Regions from separate parts of the Homo sapiens genome. Here region 2 is linked to region 1. Evidence: fine-mapped expression QTL. A gene starts in region 1. The other region holds a variant in brackets. All regions are shown on one strand. Distances are from middle to middle. Region 1 holds the start of DCAF8 (DDB1 and CUL4 associated factor 8). Region 2 overlaps COPA (coat protein complex I subunit alpha).

Region 1 (8,322 bases):
GTGGCACCATTTCCCGTGAACACCCATGGGAGGTCATGCCTGATCTCTGCTTCTACAGAGATCCTGAAGAGATTGAAAAAGAAGAGCAGGCTGCTGCTGAAAAGGCAGTGACCAAGGAGGAATTTCAGGGTGAATGGTCTGCTCCAGCTCCTGAGTTCACTGCTACTCAGCCTGAGGTTGCAGACTGGTTTGAAGGTATACAGGTGCCCTCTGTGCCTATTCAGCAGTTCCTACTGAACAATGGAGCACTCAGCCTGCCACGGAATACTGGTCTGCAGCTCCCACTGCTCAGGCCACTGAATGGGTAGGAGCAACCACTGAATGGTCTTAAGCTGTTCTTGCATGGGCTCTTAAGCAACATGGAAAAATGGTTGATGGAAAATAAACATCAGTTTCTAAAAAATAAAAAAATAAAAAATAAAAATAAAAGACTTGGAAGTCATCATTACGTGGATGGTAGTTTTTCTTTTTTTTGGAGACAGGGTCTCACTCTGTCATCCAGGCTGGAGTGCAGTGGTGTGACCTCAGTTCACTGCAACCTCTGCCTCCCAGGCTCAAGAGATCTTCCTACCTCAGCCTCCTGAGTAGCTGGTGCACACCACCACTCCCTGCTAATTTTTGTATTTTTTGTAGAGATGAGGTTTCGCCATGTTGCCCAGGCTGGTCCTGAGCTCAAACAATCTGCCCACCTTGGCCTTCCAAAGTGCTGGAATTACAGACGTGACCCACTGCGCCCGGCCCTGGACAGTAGTTTAAATGTGAGAATGGATACAATCACTGAAAGAACATGTAGAATGAAGGGGAAGAGAAGCTAATTAAATAAATGATTAGAGAGATAAAAACAAAACCGTGGAATATAGTGTTACGGAAACCAGTGGGATTGAGTATCTGTCACAAGATGGATACACAAGGGATAATAATCATCACAACCTCAAATTCAATAGGAAAGCCCAAATAAGAAAGGGAGAATTCAGTGGTAATAGCTATTGATTTGGTGGTAATAACCATGGTGTCCACAAAACAGTGGGTACAAAAAGCAGATCATAGAAAGGGAGGCCTCTATCCCTATAGCTTCCACTAAGATGACTTGCCATGGTCTAATCCTCCATTTTCCAAGTCCGATGGTCAATTTCCAGTTATCTTAACCTGTTTTATGACAGGAATGATGGAGATTATAGCCCCTTCTTGAAGCTTTTTTTTTTTGGTTTGTTTTATAAGACCCCTCACTTTTGAGTTTTATTCTTCCTATTTCCTGGCTACTCTTTTTAAATAAATTTTGCTGTATGTTCCTCCTCTCTGACCTTTATTAGTTGGAATGCCTCAGGATTAGAGGTCTCAGTCTTTAAACTGCTTCTCTTTGCTTCCACATTGATTTCTCTCCACCCCATGGCTATGTATGCCATTTATAACTTAATTAATCCTTAATTTATACCTCTCATTGTCCCTTGTATGAGCCCCAGGTTCATATTTCCAATTGTTTACTCAGTAGCTCCATTCGGAAATCTAATAGGGATCTCCAGTTTAATATGTTTGAAGTAAAATTGGACATTCCCCCCCGCCAAAAAAAACCTTGCTCCTGTCTCCTCACATGCGCTCTCAGTAAACGACATCACTATTTATCCAGTTACTCAAATCAAACTGATTTTTGTACTTTGACTTTTGTACTTTTTTACTGATTTTTTATTCTTGTCTTTATCTTGTACCCCACATTCAATCTATTAACACATCACCTCTCCACCACTTTCAGAGTACATCCTGAATCCTACCAATTTCATTGCAACACTAGTTTTGCAGGTCTTCTGCAATAGCTTCCTAACTGGTCTTTTAGCTTCTATTTGGCTTCCCTATAGGGAATTCTCAAAGAATAACCAGAGTGAACATCTTCAATTATAAATCAGATCATGCCACTCTTCTACTCAAAACCCTCCATGGCTTCCTAGCATTCTTAGGATAAAATTCAAAGTCCTTTCTTTGGTCCATAAGTCCGTAAGTGATCTGGCTCCCATCTTGTTTCTCCAAACTAAGTTCCTATCTATTCTTTTGCCACAGTGGCTTCCTTGCCAAGCACACTCAAGCTGCAGGGTCTTTACCTTGTTGTTTCTTCTGCTTGAAATATTCTTTCCCAAGTATGTATAGCTTATTGTCTCACTTCAAACCTTTATTTAGATGTCACCTCAGCAGAGGGGCCTTCTCTGAATCCCCTATGTAAAAGAGCACACCCATCCAGGTAACCCATTTTTATTCTGCTTTATTTTCCTTTACAGTACTCTTTATAACTTTATTATCTGTGTGTCTCTCCCCTCCTCCTATGCTCCCAACCCTTGCACTAATAAGTTCCATGAATGCAAGAATCTTGGTTCTATTCACTGTTGCAGCCCCAGCACATAGAACAGGGCCTTCCAGAGCAGGAATTCAATAGTTGTTGACTGAATGAATGAAAGAATGAATAGGACGGTGGGGCATTAAATAGCTACTTTGTGCTGTAGCCCTCTTCTAGGTGTTGAGATTACAAAGATGATAAAAACACAGTCCTTGCCCTCAAGAATTTATATTCTAGTAGTATAGCTGGATCACAAACATAATTTTAGATTAAATGTTATAGGTAAAAAATGTTATTAAAAAAACAGTGCAGAGTAAGGGGATAGAGGAGGATGACATGAGGTTCCATTTTAGTTACAATAGTCAAGAGCTGCCTGTGTTAGGAAGTAGGATTTCAATAGACACCTCAAGTCTAGTAAATATCTAGTAGATGGACATTCCAAGAAAAGGAAAAAAACCCTAGGGCTGGGACATGCTTTGACTGGAGTGACAGTAAGGCTAGTGAGGCTAGAGCAGAGCTAGGCAGTGTGGGAGGAGATGAATCAGATAAATAGGCAGGTGCTAGATCAGATCATGTAGGGTCCTCCTTAGAGGCAATTCATTTTTTGATGGCCTCTAAGGCTATCATACTTTTGACTTTTATTATGTGATGGGAATTGGAGGTTTTGAGCAGGGTGGGGACTGGGGAAATAATACGACATTACTTTTTTTTTGAGACGGAGTCTCATTCCATTGCCCAGCCTGGAGTGCAGTGGTGCGATCTCAGCTCACTGCAACCTCCGCCTCCGGGTTCAAGCAATTCTCCTGCCTCAGCCTCCCAAGTAGCTGGGATTGCAGGCGCGCTCCACCATGCCGGGTAATTTTTTTTTTTTTTTGTATTTTTCGTAGAGACGGGTTTCACCATGTTGGCCTGGTTTCAAACGAGTTTCGAACTCCTGACCTCAAGTGATCCGCCCACATCCGCCTCCCAAAGTGCTAGGATTACAGGCATGAGCCACCGCGCCCGGCCAGACCTTACATTTTTAAAAAGCACTCTGGCTGCCTTATGTTTAACTGTAATGGCAATAATGGAAGTAGACAAACGAGGTAAGTTTCTATTGCGGTAGTCTTAAGTAATATGTAATGACTTGGAATAGGAGAGTAGCGGTAGGGGAGGTGAGAAAGGGTCAGATTTTTGCACCCTGGGCTTCTGGTAAGAAAAAAAAAAAAAATACCCCAGCCTGGCAGCTGGGAGTAATCCTCTGCAGGGTTACTGTAGGTGTCATAACGAAACAGAGTACAAAAGTCACCCCACATCACCCGGCCCACTCTTGGGAACCTTTACCCACACCACCTCTCTTCAGAAAAGAGCTTCTGGAATAGCTACACCTCAAGCTACTGAGCCCCTTCTTTAAAAATACGTAAATGGGGACTCTCAGGGGAAAATGGGCCTCGATAGTATAGAAACCACTTAAGGAAACAAAGCCCTGAAAGGAAACGGGGATTTTCAGAAGAAATCCTTGTGGCAATCATTGCTCGTTCCAGTGTTCAAAAACGGCAAAACTGGCCATCATCCAGGAAGTGGCCTGCCAATCCGCTGGAAATTTAGTTTATTTCTATCACAACTCTGGGTAGCCCCTAACTCGCATTTGTTTAGAGTATCACAAGATAAGCAAGCCCGAAGAAACTACAAAAACAACTTTGCCTCTTCGGTAATGCGCAGGCGCCTCTCGCTCTGTTTTCCGTTGGCCTTAAGCCCCGCCCCTTGTGCGTCCTTCGAGGAGGGTTGCGAGCCGTGAGCTCGCGCGACCACTCTTCCCTCAGTCTTCTCGAGCACATCGTCGCAAACGGGGCCGGAAAGCGTGGCAGCGCAGGCGCAAGCGCAGAGAGCGGAGGCGGTGGTGGTGGCGGCCGCTGGCCAGTGTAAGATGGCGGCGGCGTTGGTGGTGGCAGTGGACGGGGCGGCTGGGCCTGGAACAGTCGGAGCAGCCGCTAGCAGAAGGATGACCCAAGACGGGAAGCGGGCTGCTGAGCCTCGCCGATTCCCGTGCTTGTAACTGCCCCAGCCGGACACCCCCCCTCCCTTGACCTACCCGGTCTGTGTCTCGTTCCGGCTCGGCCTGCGCCCCCCCTCGCTTCCCAGCCGGTTTCCCCTAAGGATGGGCCTGACCCGTATCCCAAGCTCTTAGCGCTCAGGTCTTTTCCTTCCGCCGACCCGAAGTCATCGCTGGGAGTACTGGTTGCCCTTTCCTCAGGTCAGCCCTGGTGTTGCCCCCAAGAGCCAGCCGCACAGTTCACAGGGACGCCTTGCTTCGTTGGGTGACCCATGTGTGCGCTCCTATTTCTCCCCTTAGATTGAGGGACACGGCTCGCCCTGCGTCTCCCCGTCACCTCAGGGCCACCGCGCAATGTGTCCCCCTCCCCCATCCCAAGTTCCCAGGCCCAGCACCTTGTACGGAAGGCGGAGGTCCAAGAATTCCGGAGTCGGTTGTTGTCTTGTGGTCTTGTACCCTTTGTAATATAATTATCTTAGTTTACCTCCTCTAACTCCCAAATCTTTTAGGATATCTTAGAACGGTCCCATTTGGTCCCTGTTAGTTGGAAAGCATCTGGTGGCTTGAATTTCTGACTCATGATTGTTACTGGAGTCTCTGTAAACAAACCGGCACTAGCGCTATCACATTCTCTCCGGGATTTCCCCCCCTGCTCTGTGGCTTCTTGTTGAGAGGTTGTTTGGTTATGGTTTAGCGTTGAAAAGATTCAGGTTATCCTTTTAAATGACTTTACGTTTTAGTGGAGCTGGGAGATTACTTGCCTGGCTTCTAATCTTCATGTTGGTTCATTTTATTTCCATATGTGTGTGGGTTATTTGTTCAGTAATTAGAATTAGATAAAGTATTCTGCTTTTAAGTAGTTTTGAGAAGGCCTAAAAATACTAAAGTGTATTCATAAATATTTTTATTATGTTCAGTAGAAGACACACCTTTGCCATGTAAATTTTAACTTTTCTCAGTCCTTCAGTGAATCTACAGACCTATTTTCTCAGGAGCTCAGCCTGGCCTTACTTCAGTGATAAAAGGAGGAAAGGTGAGTGGGAGTTGGAGGCATTAAAATTCTTGAGTTCAAGACAGACTGCGCTGATGCTCAACTGCTGACCACTAAAGTCATAAAATTCCTACCAGTTTCCCAAAGAGCTTGAGTGTTGTTCTTGGCTTTGTTCCAGCTCTGGTTGAATTACTTTTACAAGTTTAATTGTCTGTGGGCTTCTTGTCTTTCTGTCCTAAACTATTGCTGTGTATCTCCAAATGACTTAAGCCTAGAAGTGAATGTGTGCCCCCTGCCCCATGTCTTCTTTTCTTCTTTATTCATTTTCCTTGTATTTTGTCTTTGTGTCGATCATATTTTTTACGTTGTTAAAAACTGGAACTTAGTTTGCCTGAGTTCTGTTCATCCTGTTGTCAAATCAGGTCTCTTCCCCTCTCACAGCTTCGGGTTGTCATCCCTTGGTATTTAGAGGAGAATATTTAGCTGCTTGTGACTAAAAGCTGGGGAGTGATGAGTGATGCTGCCTTTAGTTGGTGTCTGAGTCCAGTCTATTTCAGAATTCCGACTTTTTAGGATATAGTGGGAAATTTTTTGTAAAAAAAAAAAAAAAATAGTGGCTGCTCTTTCTTTTGTAGCTGGTCTGAAGAATTCTTGGTTAGCAGAAGAAACATCCTGGGCATTCAGCAGCATGGGTTGGTGCCAAAAAGGGAGTCAGAACATACTTATAAATGCAGTTTTCGTGAGGCTTTCAGGTTTCTGGTAGCAGAGACTAGAGGCTCATGGCATGTGACAGAAAAGCTAAGTGACTGGAAGGTAGGCCTGGCCAATTCCTAATATCTTTATGATTTGTAGTAGGAAAATATTGAGTGACACTGGTGAGTTTTATTCCATCTGATGACTGAATTAGAAAATGCTCATCATGGACTGGAATAAAATTATTAGTGATGGTGTATATGTGTATCAGTAAGATATAAAGAGAAAAGTACAGTCTTTAGAGATTGGACAGACTTTTAATTTAATTTTAAGGTTTAAATACTAGACTAATATTTCTTAGCCATGTGACCTTGAGCAAGTTACTTAAACTTCTCTGACTCTTAATTTCCACAACTCTAAAAGTGTGATAATACCACTTACCTCCCAGGGTCATTGTTAGTATTATAGGGAATCTATTTAAAGCTCTTAGTAATCTAAGAACACGTGGTACACACTCAAAAAATGTTGTTTTTTGGTTTTTTTTTTTTGCACATCATTGATACAGCTTTGAATAAGTTATACGTTAATTTATGCTTCTTTTACATTTTGCCTTAGAACACATTTTTCTGGTTAATTTTCCCAACTGATTTTTAATTGGTCAGCTTAGACGTGTCCTTTGTAAGTGCCCACCTAGAGTTGTCTTCTGAACATGAAACCCTTGGTGGGGGTTCATAACCAGAGGACAGAGAATATTAGATATTGGTGTATGTATATTTCAAAATGTATTCTTAAACATCAGTAAATTTTTTTGTTCATTGGTTCCTTCATCTTGGACTCTCTGTTAGCACACCTGATCAGAGTTGGCCGTGTTGTAATTCTTTCCCTCTCTGCTGCAATGTTGTTTACTTCTACTGCAACTATTCTTTATACTTTCCTTTTTTGCCATGAAGGGAATACATTTTTTCCTTCTTGTTGGGCTATACAGTGATCCTCATCAACAAATTATCAAAGAACTGTATGAGGAAAAGGTCTCTTTTTTTAAAAGTGAATCAGGGCTGGGGAGTTAGGAATGAAGAGGTTTTTTTTGTTTGTTTGTTTGTTTTTTGACGAGTCTTGCTCTGTCACCAGGCTGGGGTGCTGTGGCGCGATCTCAGCCCACTGCAACCTCCGACTCCCTGGTTCAAGCGATTCTCCTGCCTCAACCTCCCGAGTAGCTGGGATTACAGGCATGCGCCACCATGCCCAGCTAATTTTTGTATTTTTAGTAGAGGAGGGGTTTCACCATGTTGGCCAGGGTGGTCTCAATCTCCTGACCTTGTGATCTGCCCGCCTCAGCCTCCCAAAGTGCTAGGATTACAGGTGTGAACCACCATGCCCGGCCAAAGAGTTCTTTTTTCAGCTCCACAGCTGGACCGTCTTAATAATATGACAGCACAGATGAAGAGTTTTAAACCTTTTGTTGGCTTTTCTTTCGTATCTTTTTGGCAAGGGCACATGAAAATTAAGTACTGATAATATCACAATGAAAGCAGCTGTGTCATTCAGACCAGTGACCATTTTAGGTTTGATGAACTTTTCATTACCATCATCCAGGGTCTAAATTCTCCATTGTAAGGTAAGGATTCTCCAGGGTGGTGGTGAGGTGGGTTGAGATTGCATTTGTATCATTTGTGTTTTTATGAACTCTGAAGATCCATGTCGGGTGAAGGAAAGGATGGGAGGAGAAAAGGAAATACTTTGAAAGAGGGATAACTTGGACTGTTTATTTCCTTATGTGCTGGGTAAGAATGTCCAGGTGACATCTATATGTAGTAAATCAGTATTTCTAGTCTGTGGACCACACTGTAAACTTTTTATCTTTCTAAAGTTTTTTTTATTTTTGTAGAGATAGGGTCTCACTTTGTTGCCTAGGCTGGTCTCAAACTCCTGGGCTCAAGTGATCTTCCCACCTCAGCTGAGTAGCTGGGACCGCAGGGGCATATCACCATACCTAGCTAATTTTTGGTTGTTTTTTTTTTGTTTGTTTGTTTTTTTAAAGAGATGAGGTCTTACTTGCCCGGCTCAAGTGATGCTCCCATCTTGGCCTCCCAAAGTGCTGGGATTACAGGCATAGCCGCAGCACCCAGCTTGAAGATATTTTTATATTTCCAGGGTTTTAGGTGTTTACTTAAGAATTGTGACATCTTATTAGGTAGTATTTCCTAGGATGATTAGAGTGGGAGGCTAAGAATGCTTGTGACCTTTTAGTTCCCACCACCAACCTCTTAAAGTGCAGTCTATTTATTT
Region 2 (8,322 bases), 53 kb before region 1:
ATGTAGTTTAACTCCACTGTTTCTTTGTTGATTTACTGTATGGATGATCTGTCTGTTTTTGAGAGTGGGGTATTAGCTCTCCTACTATTATCATATTGTAGTCTACCTCTCCTTTTGGATCTATTAGTGTTTGCTTTATATACTTGGGAGCTTTGGTGTTGGGTGCACAGATACTTATAATTGTTATTTCCTCTTGCTGAATTGACCCCTTTATCATTATATAGTGACCTTCTTTGTCTCTTTTTACAATCTTAGGTTTGGTAGTCTGTTTTATCTCATGTAAGTATAGCTACGCCTGCTCTTTTCTGGTTTCCAGTTTCATGGAATATCTCCCACTCCTTCGTTTTCAGTCTATGTGTGTCTGTATAGGTAAATGGGTTTCTTGAGGGCAGCATATAGTTAGGTCTTCTCTCTTTATCCGTTTAGCCACTCTATGCCTTTTAATTGAAGAATTGAGAGCATTTACATTCAGTGATATTATTGATAAGCAAGGACTTATTACTGCTGTTTTTTGCTTGTTTTCTGGTTTTGTTTTGTTTTTTTTTGAGGCTTCTCTCTTCCTTTTCTTACTGTCTTCTTTTGTGGTTAAGTGATTTTCTTTGGTAATATGTCTTAATTTGATGCTTTTTATTTTTAGTGAGTATATATTAATAGTTTTTGTGCTGTAATTACCATGAGATTCACAAAAAAAAATCTTATAGATAGAATAAGGTATTTTAAAGAGATGACAGCTTATTTTATATCACAAACACAAGAACAAAAACAAAGGCTAAAACACACTCAGAAATTATACATTTAACTCCATTTCTGTTCCTGCCTTTTTGACTATCTCTTTAACATGTTGCTATAGCTATTATTGCTTTTGATATATTTGTCTTTTGGGCTTCATAGTAAAGTTATAAGTGGATTGTGTACCACCATTATAGTAATATAGTCTTCTGGGTTTGTCTATGAACTTAATTTTACATCTTGGGTTTTATATCTTGAAAAGTTTTCTTTTTGCACATTAGTGTTTTTTTTTTTTTTTTGTTTTTTTTTTTTTTTTTTTTTTTACAAATATTGTTTATTTTAATGAAGCTGGTACAGACAATGTCCATTTAAAACCCATATCCCAGGCCAAAAAGTACAAATAAAATCAAAAAGAGCAGTGTTCTGTTGTATTCATTTCTGCATGTATAGCTTTATTAATTGCTAATGAAAATTAGAACTTTTCTGGGATCTTCTGACAAGATTTTTAAAAAATCTTAAAATGCCTTTTCTTCAATGAAGCCATCTTTGGAGTTAGTCATTACTCTCTCCTTATCAGTTATCTTGACTTCAACCCGATATTCCTCTTCTTTTGGTCCAGACCCTCAAATTTAAGAGTAGCTTGAAGTTAAGGAAAGGTCATTTTTCCACAGTTTCAGTTCTCTGAAACACTTCCATCTCCCACTGAAAGTCACAGTCCAGGAGTGAAGTAATCACATGCTAGAACATCAGGGCCAATTCGCAAGTTATTATGAACGCTTGCATTGGTCAATCTTATTTATCACCACAAGCCTGAAAATGCAATGTCCTGAAAAAGGTGGGCTCTCTGTGCACACGTAATTTTTAAAAAGGAGAGGGTAATATGAAGGGGACTGAGGCTTGATCACCAAAAATCAGCACAATGAAAATAAACAATAATGAATAATGAGCACTAGAATTCAGATTACCAGATGTTTCAAAGAGATGGGGTGCCAGTTTTCAATTCCGTTTTTAACACCACATTACAAAAGAACTATTTTTAAAAATGAGAAAGGATTGAGGGAAAAGAAAAAAAATAAAAAGAATATCTAAACTGTTGAATGACCCCCCATTTGTTCCTGATAAACTTCAATCACATCTTCTTCCTCCATTCCCAGTTCTTTTGGAGTATGATTATCAGCAATTCTCTGACCCTCAAAGAGAAACCTGAATGAATTCATTGGAACGCCCTGTCTTTGACAGTATGATTCTTTGAGTTTCTTGAGATGTGTTGTCATTTTCACTTTGAAGTGAATCTCACTGCTATCCTGTCCAATGACTTTGAGTTTAATATATTCACCTTCCTTCTTATCCCCCAAGTCCTCAGTTGAAGGTTTTGCCTCCTGGTCAGACATGATGACAGTGGCTTCACCCGGGGGTCTCCGCACAGCAGCGGCCTCGGGTAAGCAGAACCTCACTCCGGGGTTTACAAATCCTTCTCCCTTCCCCACAGCACAACACCGCAGCTGCAGTAACTTCCGCTACCACATTAGTGTTTTTTTCTTTCAGATCGAAGAACTACTTTTAACACTTACTGTAAGATGGATCTGGTGGTGGTAAATTCTCACCTTTTGTTTGTATGGGAAATACTATCCTTCATATTTGGAAAATAAAATAATCTTGCTGGGTACAGTATTCTTAGATGTCAGGTTTTTTCTTTGAGCACTTGGAAAATGTCATTCCTCTCTCTCTTGGCCTGTATGGTTTGCATTGAAACATCTATTGCCAGACAAATTGGAGCTCCTTTGTGTGTTCTTTGCTTCTTTTCTGTTGTGTATTTTAGGATCCTTTCTTTGTCCTTGACTTTTGAGAGTTTGACTTTTATATGCCTTAGGGTAGTCTTACTTGGGTTGGACCTGTTTGGTGTTCTCAGGCCTTCCTGTACCTGGATATTTCTTCCTCAAGTTTTGGAAAATTTTCTGTAATTATTTCTTTGAATAAGCTTTCTACGCTTGCTCTTGCTTAGCTCCCTCTTGAAAACCAATCATTCTTTTTTTTTTTTTTTGAGACAGAATTTTGCTCTTGTTGGCCAGGCTGGAGTGCAATGGTGCGATCTCAGCTCACCATGACCTCCGCCTCCCGAGTTCAAGTGATTCTCCTCCCTCAGCCTCCCGAGTAGCTGGGATTATAGGCATGCACCACCACACCCGGCTAATTTTGTATTTTTAGTAGAGACAGGGTTTCTCCATGTTGGTTAGGGTGGTTGCAAACTCCTGACCTTAGATGATCCGCCCACCTCAGCCTCCCAAAGTGCTATGATTACAGGCATGAGCCACCACGCCAGCCAATTGTTCTTAAATTTGGTCTTTTGAGGCAATTTTCTGTATCTTGTAGTCTTGTAGGTAGTCTTTGTTCCTTTTCATTCTTTTTATTTTTTCCTCTGACTTCTTTTTTTTTCAAGACAGGGTCTTGCTCTGTCACCCAGGCTGGAGTGCAATGGTACAATCTCAGCTCACTGCAACCTCCACCTCCCGGGTTCAAGTGATTCTCCTGCCTCAGCCTCCCAAGTAGCTGGTATTACAGGCATCCACCACCAGGTCTGGCTAATTTTGGTATTTTTAGTAGAAACAGGGTTTCACTATGTCGGCCAGGCTGGTCTCGAACTCCTGACCTTGTGATCCACCCACCTCGGCCTCCCAAAGTGCTGGGATTATAGGTGTGAGCCACCATGCCCAGCCTGACTGTGTATTTTTCAAACAGCCAGTCTTCGAGCTCACTGATTTTTTTCCTCCACTTGGTCCAGTCTGCTATTCAGAGTCTCTAATGAGCTCTTCATTTCAGCAAATGTGTTTCTGTTTCAAGATTTCTGTTTGATTTGTTTTCATTGTTTCAATCTCTTTGTTAAACTTCTCTGGTAAATTTCTTAATTGTTTTTCAGCCATCTCTTGGCGATAACAGGGTTTCCTTTAAACTACCAGTTTTAATTCTTGGTCAGAGATCACAAATTGCTGTCATTTTAGGGTCAGTCATTGTATTTTTGCTTTGTCCTTGTGGGGAGGTTATGGTTCCCTGTTTGCTATTGTTTATTTTGGGTATACACCTATGTCTTTGTATTGAAAGATTAGTTACTTATTCCAGTTTTCTCTGTTTGGCTTGCTTTGGTTTTTATTGGATATATTTGCTTAGCAAATCTGTACTGCTAGGTCACTTCCTCCTCTTTGGCTTTAGGTGACACCTTAAGTCCGGGTTCACCTTGGCTTTAGTAAATGACCAGAGCATTGTCTGTCCTGAATGGGGAGGTCCCAAAGGGATTATCCCAGCTGTGTGTCAAGGCTGGCTAGAGGTTCGTGTATGGGCAGACCTGTGGAATATACTTCCTGCAATGCAGTGCTGCTGAGCAGCCACTCTGATTTGGCATCTCCTTTGGCCAAGTAACAGAGCAGAGTTTCTGGGGCTGGGTGTGATAGTCTTGCCTCCCC[G/C]CTTTCTCTCTGCCTGTCCTCAGGGATATTTCCCCTTTCAGGCAGTCGTGATGCTTCCCATGGGTTAAGTCAAGGTTAGATCTCCTGCCAGGGCACCCAGGAAGATGGGGAAGGTAGTTGACCTCCTCAGTCTCACTTTTTCCAGTGTAGAAACCATGAGTTGGGGGAGGGCCATTGCAGATGTGGAAATCAGATGCTCTTACCATCTGCTCAGAGTTTTTTCATCTCTCTGTGGCCCCAGGAACTGTCTCATTGTCATATTTGAGTTCTGGGTTGTTGCTGATGAAAATCTCAGCACTGTATATTTGTTTTGGGTTTTCTGTGGAGGGGAGTGAAGCCAGCTTGCTTCTATACCACTGTTTTGAAACTGAAAGTATTCCTTCTTTCCCTTTTTTCCTGTGGTGGTACCCTTATTTTGAGGAGTATGAACATAGAATTCATCCATTCATTTGACAAATATTTATTGAGTACCTCCTTTGTACTAGACTTTGTTTAAGGCTCTGGAGATACAGCGGTGACTAAAACAGATAAGGCCCCTGTCTGAAGGAGCTCATATTTGTTCTAAAATGGCAACTCCTAAAGTGGCAGGTCCCTGAAAAAAAGAAAAAATAACAAAAATTGAAAGGCCAACTAGGACAGTTGTTATCAGGACAGATAAAACAGGATAAAGGGATGGAGAATGATGAAAAAGAGGTGTTTGTTTTTTTGAGACAGGGTCTTGCTCTGTTGCCCAGCCTGGAGTTTGGTGGTGCATTCACGGCTCACTGCCGTCTTGACCTTTTGGGCTTGGGCGATCCTCCCCCTCAGCCTCCTGAGTAGCTGGGACTACAAACGTGCGCCACAACACCCAGTTAATTTTTGTATTTTTTGTAGAGATGGGGTTTTTTACCATGTTGCCCAGGCTGATCTCGAACTCCTAGGCTCAAGTGATCCCCCTACCTTAGCCTCCCAAAGTTCTGGGATTACAGGTGTGAGCCACCATGTCTGGCCAAGAGAAGAGGTTTTATAATCAATAAGAGGGTCAGAATGAAAGAACCAAGACATGTAAAGATTAAGAGACTTAAATGAAGAAGATTGCCATATTAGAAAGAAGTTGGCAATTTAGCATTCTGTAATAGTACTTAGTTCTTGATGAAGAGGATGTCATATCTCCAAATCCTAAAGTTATAGTAGTAGGGAATTGTGATGACCTAATTCTTTTTGTCCTTCAGAATCAAAGGCATGGGAGGTTGATACCTGCCGGGGCCATTACAACAATGTATCTTGTGCCGTCTTCCACCCTCGCCAAGAGTTGATCCTCAGCAATTCTGAGGACAAGAGTATTCGAGTCTGGGATATGTCTAAGCGGTAAGGTAGTCCTCAGTGTTGTGTGAACTTTCTCTTACTCTCTCTTTTAAAATTAGATTGGAATACTTCTTTATGTCTCTCATCATCTTCAGCATGTAGACAAATCAAATCATATATTATGAAAATTTGAAGAGACCTAGAGATCAGTCAACATTTACAAATTTTCCATCAAATAGAAATCTCCATGTATATTATTTTTTGCCTCTAAATTTAAACATGTTTTCTTCTTCCCCCTTTCCCCAGTTCTGTAGCTAGAGAAGTAAGAAATGCGGAATGAGGCCGGGCGCGGTGGCTCATGCCTGTAATCCCAGCACTTGGGAGGCTGAGGCGGGTGGATCACGAGGTCAGGAGATTGAGACCATCCTGGCTAACACAATGAAACCCCGTCTCTACTAAAAATACAAAAAATTAGCCGGGCGTGGTGGCGGGCGCCTGTAGTCCCAGCTACTCAGGAGGCTGAGGCAGAAGAATGGCATGAACCTGGGAGGTGGAGCTTGCAGTGAGCCGAGATCGCGCCACTGCACTCCAGCCTGGGCAACAGAGCGAGACTCCGTCTCAAAAAAAAAAAAATGCAGAATGAAAGCCATAAAATTATGCTGAAAAGGGGAAATCTATATATCATAATAATATGGTCAGTTTTGAAGTCTCCTCTTTTTGTTCCTTGGTAGAATTTATCACGACTACTGTTACTTAGGATATGCAGTTTACTCTCCCTGATTTACATTTTAATCAGCTTGCTGGCTTACCATTTAATATTCTTGTGTAGGATGGGCTGAAGATTCCTAGGAAATTAATGTTTTTCTTTTTGTGTACCTTTTCTAGGACTGGGGTTCAGACTTTCCGCAGAGACCATGATCGTTTCTGGGTCCTAGCTGCTCACCCTAACCTTAACCTCTTTGCAGCAGGTAAGGGCCATTTTCTCTCTTTTTTCTTTGCTTAATTCAAAGTTTATAAGTCTTGAAAGTGATTATTAGCTTTGTCTCTAGTAAATGTATAGTAGGATGACAAGAAGAAGAAGGACTCTCAGAGCCACTTAGTTGAAGCTTTTCTCCTTTTTTTCTTCCACTTTATATGTACGTAAAATGATGTGTGGTGAAAAATGCTTTGAAGAAAAATTAAAGGTAAGGCAGATAGAGACAGATGAGTATGGGGACTGCTGCTTTATATTGGGTGGTTCAGAAAAGTGAAAGGGTATGAGGCAATGGGAACAGCAAATGCAGAGACTGTGTTGTGAGAGGTGCTTAGCATGTCACCATCACATGCTAAGGAACACCAAAGAGGCCAGTTGGAGCACAGTGAGTAAGGGACTGAGTAACAGGTGAGGTCTGGCCAGATCGTGTATTGCCTTCTATGCCATGGTTAGAACTTAAGATTTTATTCTGAATACATGGAAAGCCATTGGAAGGTTTTGGGCAGGAAAGTGACATGATCTGGTTTATATTTGGAGAGCAGACAGTAGGAGAACAAGAGTGGAAGGGTTTTCTAAGGGATGATGGTGCTAGTAGGGAAAGAGCAAAACATTTTAAAAAACAGAATCACAAAGGGTTTTTAACATCCATTTTTTCAGTAAATACTTCTTATACTCTTTTTATATGCTAGAGACTGGGGAAGGATGGAAATTATAATTTCTGCCTTCAGGGAATTCATGTTACAATGTGGGTGATAGACCTAAATGATTACAGTGCAGGATGATAAGTACTGTAATGGAGGTTTGTACAAAGCATTAGGGGAACACAGAAAAGGGCAGTGTGGATAGTGACACTAAGTGTGGCAGTGTGAATAGTATTAGGAAAGGATTCACAGAGAATTATTTAAATAAAGATTCCAAGAATTGTGAGAATTTAGGCAAATAAGGGATGCATTCAGGTGTCTTGTCTTACAGATATAATCTTCATCCTTACGTATCTCCAATTTCCAGGTTTTTTTCTTGCCTACAGCTTAATTTTTTCTCCTCCTCTCCCTGTCCCCCAGGCCATGATGGTGGTATGATTGTGTTTAAGCTGGAACGGGAACGGCCAGCCTATGCTGTTCATGGCAATATGCTACACTATGTCAAGGACCGATTCTTACGACAGCTGGATTTCAACAGCTCCAAAGATGTAGCTGTGATGCAGTTGCGGAGGTAAATCGGACTTGTTTCTTTCCTCCAAACCCTCTCATCTGTCACCCTGATACAACTCCCACAAACAAGACTCTTCTTTTCTTTCTTTCATTTATTTATTTTATTTATTTAATTTTTTTTTGAGACGGAGTCTCGCTTTGTCGCCCAGGCTGGAGTGCAGTGGCGCGATCTCGGCTCACTGCAAGCTCCGCCTCCCGGGTTCACACCATTCTCCTGCCTCAGCCTCCCAAGTACTGGGACTACAGGCGCCCGCCACCACGCCTGGCTAATTTTTTGTATTTTTTAGTAGAGACGGTTTCACCATGTTAGCCAGGATGGTCTCAATCTCCTGACCTCATGATCTGCCTGGCTTGGCCTCCCAAAGTGCTGGGATTACAGGCGTGAGCCACCGCGCCCAGCCTATTTATTTATTTTTAAATTTTTTTTTTTTGAGATGGAGTCTCACTCTGTCACCCAGGCTGGAGCGCAGTGATGCAACCTCAGCTCACTGCAACCTCCACCTCCTGGGTTCAAGCAATTCTCCTGCCTCAGTCTCCCAAGTAGCTGGGATTACAGGTGTGCACCACCACACCTGGCTAATTTTGTATTTTGAGTAGAGACGGGGTTTCGCTGTGTTGGTCAGGCTGGCCTCGAACTCCTGACCTTGTGATCCGCCCACCTCGGCCTCCC

Evidence for each region. PIP is the estimated chance that this variant, and not a neighbour inherited with it, causes the effect.
Region 2: its variant is fine-mapped to the expression of DCAF8 in whole blood (TOPMed, PIP above 0.99).

The regions. Positions count from the first base shown.
Region 1 is chr1:160,258,348-160,266,669 of GRCh38, reverse strand. DCAF8 (DDB1 and CUL4 associated factor 8) reads left to right here and starts at 4,121. Exons shown (of 14, transcript NM_015726.4): 1 at 4,121-4,221; 2 at 5,312-5,385. It overlaps DCAF8-DT (DCAF8 divergent transcript), which reads right to left and starts at 4,921. Exons shown (of 2, transcript NR_147618.1): 1 at 4,748-4,921; 2 at 3,892-4,269. It also overlaps the pseudogene RPSAP18. RefSeq lists enhancers at 4,037-4,306, 4,937-5,066, 4,238-5,186.
Region 2 is chr1:160,311,199-160,319,520 of GRCh38, reverse strand. COPA (coat protein complex I subunit alpha) reads left to right here. Exons shown (of 33, transcript NM_004371.4): 9 at 5,396-5,531; 10 at 6,354-6,436; 11 at 7,503-7,653. It also overlaps the pseudogene SUMO1P3. Among named protein-coding and RNA genes, the nearest start is that of COPA, 28 kb to the left of the region's middle. The variant G/C (reference allele first, on the strand shown) is at 4,185.